2 linked regions of the Homo sapiens genome follow. The protein of the gene in region 2 purifies or fractionates together with the protein of the main gene of each other region. This does not show direct contact. Each region holds a gene or a part of one and is shown on either strand. Other genes may lie near its edges.

The links.
Region 1: the proteins of APEH (region 2) and MPRIP purify together in Homo sapiens (affinity purification with mass spectrometry; one large-scale study listed by BioGRID and IntAct). This does not show direct contact.

What each region holds. Positions count from the first base shown.
Region 1 is NC_000017.11:17,167,957-17,171,608, reverse strand, and holds part of MPRIP (myosin phosphatase Rho-interacting protein), read right to left. Parts: intron 1-3,652. UniProt on the Homo sapiens protein: Targets myosin phosphatase to the actin cytoskeleton. Required for the regulation of the actin cytoskeleton by RhoA and ROCK1.
Region 2 is NC_000003.12:49,677,279-49,680,930, reverse strand, and holds part of APEH (acylamino-acid-releasing enzyme), read right to left. Parts: intron 3,359-3,652; coding exon 3,298-3,358; intron 2,080-3,297; coding exon 1,982-2,079; intron 1,339-1,981; coding exon 1,287-1,338; intron 391-1,286; coding exon 302-390; intron 1-301. UniProt on the Homo sapiens protein: This enzyme catalyzes the hydrolysis of the N-terminal peptide bond of an N-acetylated peptide to generate an N-acetylated amino acid and a peptide with a free N-terminus. It preferentially cleaves off Ac-Ala, Ac-Met and Ac-Ser.

The sequences.
Region 1 (3,652 bases), on a different chromosome or scaffold from region 2:
GGGCATTCACTGAGCTTGCTCCACCATGGGCGCCCTGAACAGGATCCCTGGGGCTGTCTGGGGATTCTCAGCAATGCCATCAGAGCATTCAGAAAAGGGTGTTACCAGTCAACTCTACCTCTTATTTCTGTGACTGTACTGTGCCCCATTTCTTCCTGGGAGAAGTTGGTATGGTAGGTGGGGACAGGCTGCTATGAAATGGAAACCAGCCAACCCTGGACCTTCCTGCGTTGCTGCCAGGTGGGACCCACAGGAAGGAAGAGAGAGCACGTGGGCAGAGGCTGGCTGTGTCTGGTCTGGAGGGACACGGTGAAAGGCCCGTAAAACAGGGATGAGGGACTTGTCTGCTGGAGGGAACCAAGGCCATTCCACATATAGGGAGTGGCCTGGCGGGCACCGGGCTGGGAGCCTCTCAACCCACAGTGGGTTGGGGGTACATAGAGTCCACTTCTGGGAGCTGGGGGTTGGGACTCTGCCACTAGCCAGCTGACAACCTCCAGCTGGTCACTTAATGCTCAGGTGTTGACTGAGGGAGTAAGATCAGGCTACAGGCTCCCCTTCCTTCTAGCCTGTGTCTTCTTTCTTACTCTTTTCTTAAAGAAGGGCACCAATGACTTAGCACCTCTGCTAACTCTAACAAGTACATGACAGGAGACCTGCTTTCCAAACTCTCCTGTGCCTCCCTAGAGCGACATAGGCATGCCCCAGGATGGGAGCAAGCCACACCAGGAAGCCCAGGCCTGGTTATCAGAGCTGTGCTCACTAACAAAGCAGGTGAGCGTGCTGCACAGCTGCCGGGAAGGGTGGGTGTGCAGCTATTTTGAGCACGGAGGCACACACTTTCTGTCTAAATCCTTCAAGTGGTCTGCTTCAGAGAAGGGACTGGGCCTCTCGCTGAGTTTTAAAAACTGGAAGAACGTGGCCACATTCCATTCCAAATTCAAGTGTGGGGGTTTCCCCACTCTGGGCTGATAGCCTGCACCACTTGGTTAATCTTCTTGCATGTGGATTCAAGAAAGGATACCAAGAAATCCTATCAGCATGCCTGGGCATTTTTCTCTGGGCCCACTTTTGGTGATGGCCAACTCTGAGAGCCTCAGGCAGTATTTCCAAACTCGTGGTCAGTCTGGACTTGACTGCAACCTATGTGCTGCTCTGGGTGAATGTCTCAGCTATTGCCACTATTAACTAGGCGTCCCATCCCCTCTCCCAGCGGCTCCACCTGGAAGCATCTGTCTCTTTCTGCCACCCTCACACCTCAGGACGGCTGCAGGAGCTCGGAGCTCTGGAGCTCCTGGTCCTCAGGCCCCAAGGTTGAGCTCTTCTTTCTTCCTCCCACTCGCTTCTGTTTGTATGTGGCTTCTCAGTTAACACATTTAACTAATAGGTCTTTTTTAATTAAAAAAAAAAAAAATATATATATATATGGAATACTTCATGAATTTGTGTGTCATCCTTGTAAAGGGGCCATACTAATCTTCTCTGTATCATTCCAATTTTAGTATATATGCTGCTAAAACGAGCACAACTAGTATTAATAGATCTTTTAAGTCTTTTTTTTTTTTCTTTGAGTCTACTTGCTGGGAAAAGTCTTATTTTGATCTGAGTGCTTTGGAATATTATGCAGGTAAGAGTCAAAAATCTAACAGAAGCACTGGGACATCTTTAAAGACCTAGTTGCTTCTTTGGAGAGAAACTATATGCTAAAAAATAATTGATCTTGCAAACAAATGTTAATTTAAGCCAATCATTCCTGACACCAAAAGAAGTTCCCCGATGACTGCAATCGTGGTGTGGTGGGAGCCTGTGGATGTCAGAGGACGGCTGTTAGGCCAAGACCCTGTCCCCAACGACCCAAGTGGAAATCTGCATAAAGTGATGAAATCTCAAGGTGCTGTCTATTTACAAGTTCTGTAAGTCTGCAGGGGTGGGTGAGAACACCACACCTGGGCTAGAAGCTCCCAGGCACAGGAGGGGACACTATGCAACGGCAGCTAAGGCAGCAGGGAGTGGACAGTGTCCAAGCCCCTGGGAGGGGCCTCATCCCGACCTGCATCATCTGTTTCTCCCTCCTAGTGACACTGGCCCAGCACAATCTCTGGTCAGTTCTCAACATAAGGCAGTCCTCTTTTTTCTGATTTCTTGCTCACTGTTGGTATAATGGCACCTGCATGGGGCCTCCCCTGCACCTGGTTGGCTAACCTAAAGCAGCCTCGGTGTGGAGGGGCCTCTTATGGATGCAGACAGGAAGCAGGGCATTGCTGTGCCCAGGCCCTGCCCCCATGGACCCTGCTGATTGTCTGGGAAGCTGCAGGGAAGGGCACTAGCAAGCGTATTTGGGGTCAAAGCAAAGGTTTGTGCAATTAACTTTTCAAGGTGCACCTGGATCCACCCATCTCAGTGCTGCTCTTGGTGAACTGACCACAGTGCCATCATATACACACACTTTGAAAACATAGCTGTTGAAACCTTCTCACAACTCATAATGGTTTTTAAAAGGTTTTGACTGATTTGGGGAAAGAATGGTGAAAAAGAGCTTCTCAGTTCTCCTGAGGTGCTCGCTGACAACCACACCTGTGTGTCTGGGTGGGGCCGAGTCCGTCACACAGAGGTGACATGTGAGCTGCTGTTTCCATTCAGAGCTACAGGAGTAACGGGCTGGGAAAAACAGGTGTCCTGCTAGACAGTGGCTGTGAGGATGTGTAGGCAGGAGCAGTGGCAGCCACCTGGGAGTCAGGAGCTTGCAGCACAATGGTGCTGGCTGTGTGCGCGCCTGGCTCTGCCACATGAGCGTGGAAGGCACCACCTGAACATGGCTTTTGAGGGGCCTAGTCATCCTAGTCATTTACTGGGGCAGCTTCCTGAGTGGAAGGAACATAAGGGCACAGGTATCATGGTAAACTTTTGAGTCTAAGGGATGATGCTTGACAGCCACACATGGTGGGTGTGGCCTGCAGCTACAAAGGGTGGGGCCAGACAGCTGGGCCTCCACTCAGCCCACCACCACCTCCAGGGCCTGGCATTTCGCCTTTGTGCTCCAGGACCTCAGGGGCGGGGATGCAGGACAGTTCTGGGGAAAATCTACTTGTAAAGGTCCTGGGGAAGGGGACAGGAGTGGCTGGAGGCTGTGCTCCGTGGGAAAGTTCTTCTCACCAGAGCACACATCAAATGCCAGTTCCAGAGAGGGACCCTCCGCCCGACTGTGCTCTCCTAGGGCAATCAGGAGGAGACTGCCCTCCAACTGGGCCCTGGCTCTCCGGGGTGTTGCTGTGAGTACAAGGCTGTCCTCAGGCAGCTGCCTCAGATTTGGGCTGGGACTGGGCCAGACGGGGTTCCCGGGGCAGGGGCAGGAAGGAGGCAAGGCTGGCAAGGGGATTGGGGGCTGCTCTCAGGAACACGGAGAGGCCGCATTAGGCAGGCAGGGAAGTGCTGGGAAGACTACGTGCTCCTCTCCCACCAGGGACCCTGGCGGCCCTCCTGCTAGTTCTCCTCCTGGTGGAGGACACTGGGGGATGCCGAACAAGAGGCTAAGCCTGCGGCCCAGGCCCTGCTGAGACCACACCATGGCTAGCAAGTAGAGGGACAGCAGCATATCCCCTCAATTCTGCCTGCACGGTAGCTGAGCCAGACGTCCCCACACCCACCCCATTAT
Region 2 (3,652 bases):
ATACAATCACACACAGGCACACCCCTCCCTCCTCAGCTTCTAGGCTCTGCTGTCTCCTTTGCTCTGTAATACCAAGACAGAGCACTTCCCCAGGCACCTTGTTTTGTACGGAGCAGATTCTAGCCTAGTAGTTCGTCCCTGTGAGTGCCAAACCCTCATGGACCATGCCAAGCTGGGCCTGTGTCTTGGCCCGTCTGTATGCTGACCAGCCAGGTCAGACTCTGGGGCCAATTCCCTGACCTGGTGAGCTCTGCCTGCCCAGAACCCCTGCCTCCACAGCCTGGGACCCACCGACACTCACCAGGGTTGGAGGTAGGCTGGGTGTGGAAAACTGTGCCACCATGAGGTCCTGGTCAATTGTGAGCAACTTCCAGCTCCCACCTGACCCTCCTGGAAAAGGCAGATGCCATTAAGTGCTTAGCAGGAGCCATCACCTTTCTTACCTGCTTCTCTGTAACAGAGTCCCAGGCTGGAGACTCTATGGAAAGGTGCCCTTTTCTCCCCGAGAAGTGCCTTTCACAAACACCCAACTGCACATGGCCCCGGGTGAGCCTCCTGCTCTCAGTCTGTTGTTCATCTGACAGACACTGGCTGGGCTGGGAACTGCCAAACCTTAAGACACATCAGACCATGCAGGCACATCTGCCTGTCCCTCGATGGCTGCTGTGTGCAGGGTGGCAGCTGGGACCGGGAAGTTGGGGGTCGGGGAGCGTGCTGATTTGGGGCAGTGGTGTCCAAGCAGTTGTACAATGAGATGTAGCTTTGGAATGATACTTTGGTAGCTTTGTGGAGGAGCGGATACAGTCAGGTCAGGTGGAGGACTCAAAACACATTTCAAAGGCAGAATCACCAGGCCTAAGTATGGGGAAGACGGGGGAGTCAACACTGGGCTTTTCCTGGGCCCTCAGGTGGCAGAGCTGCCTCTGCCTGAGACAGGCACCCAAGGTTTGCAGAGCGAGAAGGATGAGTCTGGCAGATCTTGATAAGAGAGAGTTTTGTGGGTTTTAGGAGCAGAGGTGGGGGCCGTGCTGAGGCTGGGCCAGGACACATGGAACAGAGTTGAGTGCTAAAGGGCAGTAGAGCAGGGAAGCTAGTCTGTTGGTTGGGTAAGGGTCTGCACAGACAGGGGCCTTGGGGACCTGTTAGTAAAGGCTGTGGAACAGTCAGTGGTGCTGAGTGGCTGAGAATGCCATCACTGCCCCACATGTTGGAGCTCCAGTCCCCCGCTGCCTGGTTGGCTTGCTCACCAGCCCTGCCCTTACCCCCATCCCCAAAGCCTTGCTCACCAGCTGTGAGGGAGGTCACAGTGCCCACTTGGGTGTCCACAGCAAACAGGTCCTGAAGCAGAGGCAAGGCCACAGGTGCGACCACATCCAAGAGTACTCCCTCTACCTATGGGTCCCTCCCCTACCTCCTCTCTACCCTCTTGGAGAGCCCTGGCCAGACCAAGGCTGTGGACAGCTATGGTGATGGTTACTCAGTGCAGTAGGGAGTAGTGTGAGGGCCTGGGTTCAAATCCCAGCACCATCACAACTTGCTGGGTGACCCTGGGCAAGGTAAGGAATGGCTTTGAGCCCCTTTGAGTTGGCACAAGGACCAAATATCACACCCAAAAGGAGCCTGGCACACTGTGAGTGGCTTTACTCCATCCCTGGGGGAAGGCCTCAGTCCTGTCCCCATCAGCTGCCATTACAGAGTGTTCAGGGACCCACCCGAGTGGCAGTCCCCTTGACCCCCAGCTAGAAATGCCTGGGAGGGGTTGCATCTCTGCCTCAGACGAAAAGGCCTGAGTTCTGCTGTGGTGCACCAGGGCAGCCAGTCCCCTCCAGGAGAAATGAGTCCAGGATGGGCAGGCAGGGTTTTAAGGGGCTGATGAGACTTTGTGGCTGGGCATTCCACCCAGGGGCATGCACATGCAACCCCCAGGGCTCCTGGGGGTTGACCACAGGGGCTGCCCCTCAACACAATCAGCGTCCCTCACCTGCCGGCTGCGCTGAGCCGAGTCAAAGACCACTCTCTGGCTGTCAGCTGACCAGCATCCCAAAGGCAGAAGGCTGCAGTAGATCCCAGAGAAGTTCTCTGTAAAGATAGGAGGGCTGAGGCTGCATCCAGGAGTGGAGGTAGGGAGGGTAGTCTACAAGGAAGGCTAGGGTACTGGGGAATTCACCCAGGGCCCTACTCAGGCACCAGTCAGGCCCCTGCAGCTTGTAGCACACATGGGGGCACGCTACGCGATGAGGAGCTGCCTGAGTAGGTGGCTGAGGGGCAGAGGCCTCTTGGGACCCAGAGAGGACCCAGAGAGGCAGAGCTCAAGAGCTCCAGAGAGAAACCATGGGTGCTCAGAGGAAAAGCACTTGCTCTCCTGAGTAATTCCAGTTGAACCCAGGTAGGTACCAGGTGCTTTAACCAAGATATCATCTGTCCGTCTTATCTCCACTGTGGTGCTTAGCACAGCGCTTGGCACAGGGGGCTCAGTAAATCCTACCCTTTAATATCATCACTCACTTAACACTCACTATGATCCTATGAGGCAGGCAGACACAATCACCCCTCCATGAAGAAATGGGAGCTCAGGGAGGCCAGGACCCTGTCTGAGGACACAGCTAATTTAGGGCAGAGCTGGGATTCATACTAGGTTCCCACCACTGCATCCCTGCAACCCAAAGAGAAGACAAAGAGGCTATCCCTTGTCCACTGAACTCCTGGAACTGACCGGGTGGCCTGAGAAAACAAGAGACTCATCCTTGAGATGGTCCAGGAGGATCCAAGCAGAGCTATCAACACTCGAGACGGGAGCCTCTCAGCCAAGAGCCACCCTCCTGAAGACCCAGCTGACTTCAGGGCTTAGACTGGACAAAGGTTGCTGGGGTTAGGATGGTGGATGGGATAATATCATGCCCTCGGGTCCAGAGCCTCTCGAGTGTGACATTCCAACCTAGTGCACTTCCTGAGACCCACTTGAAGGAGTCATGGTTTTGGTTTGAACCAGCCATTGGAAAAATAAGAAAACTCTAATTATGACCTGCAGCACAGGAAATAATACATCATCAACTTGGGCCACTCTGATCTCAGCTTGGTCCTACCACTCCTTGCTATTGAACTGTTCCCTACGGTGACAGCCCCGCTCCCTATGGTGACAGCCCCGCTCCCTGAGGATGCTGGGCATAAGGCTGGCCCAGCAGGGAGGTAGGGCCCTCAGAAGGAACCTAGGAAAGAAGAACGGGGCAGGGATGCAACAGACGGCAGGAAAGCAGAGCTACAGGCCCCACTGCACCCACCCAGCCAGGTATGCCTTACCTCCCAGCTGCCGAGGCACAACATCTACCACCACTGAGGTAACCTTGGTATACCAGTCATACTGCAAGAGAACACAATGGTCAGGTCCAGTAGGGGACAGGCAGTTCCCTTAGGGCACAGTGCCCTGTGCCTATCCCCTTTTGCCTCAGGTAGCCCCAGGAGATGGGGGAACTGGAATAAGCCTGATGTATCTCTTTTCTGGTGACCTGGACCAGATGCCCAAGGGGCCTCAGATAGGCATGTCCCTCTGACTTTTACCAGGGGCCCAGAGCTCTTCCTGGGGAGGGTCTGGGATTGTGTAACTCCCCACTATATCCCAGCCCCTTGCAGAGCCTGGCTACATGCAGTTGAGAGC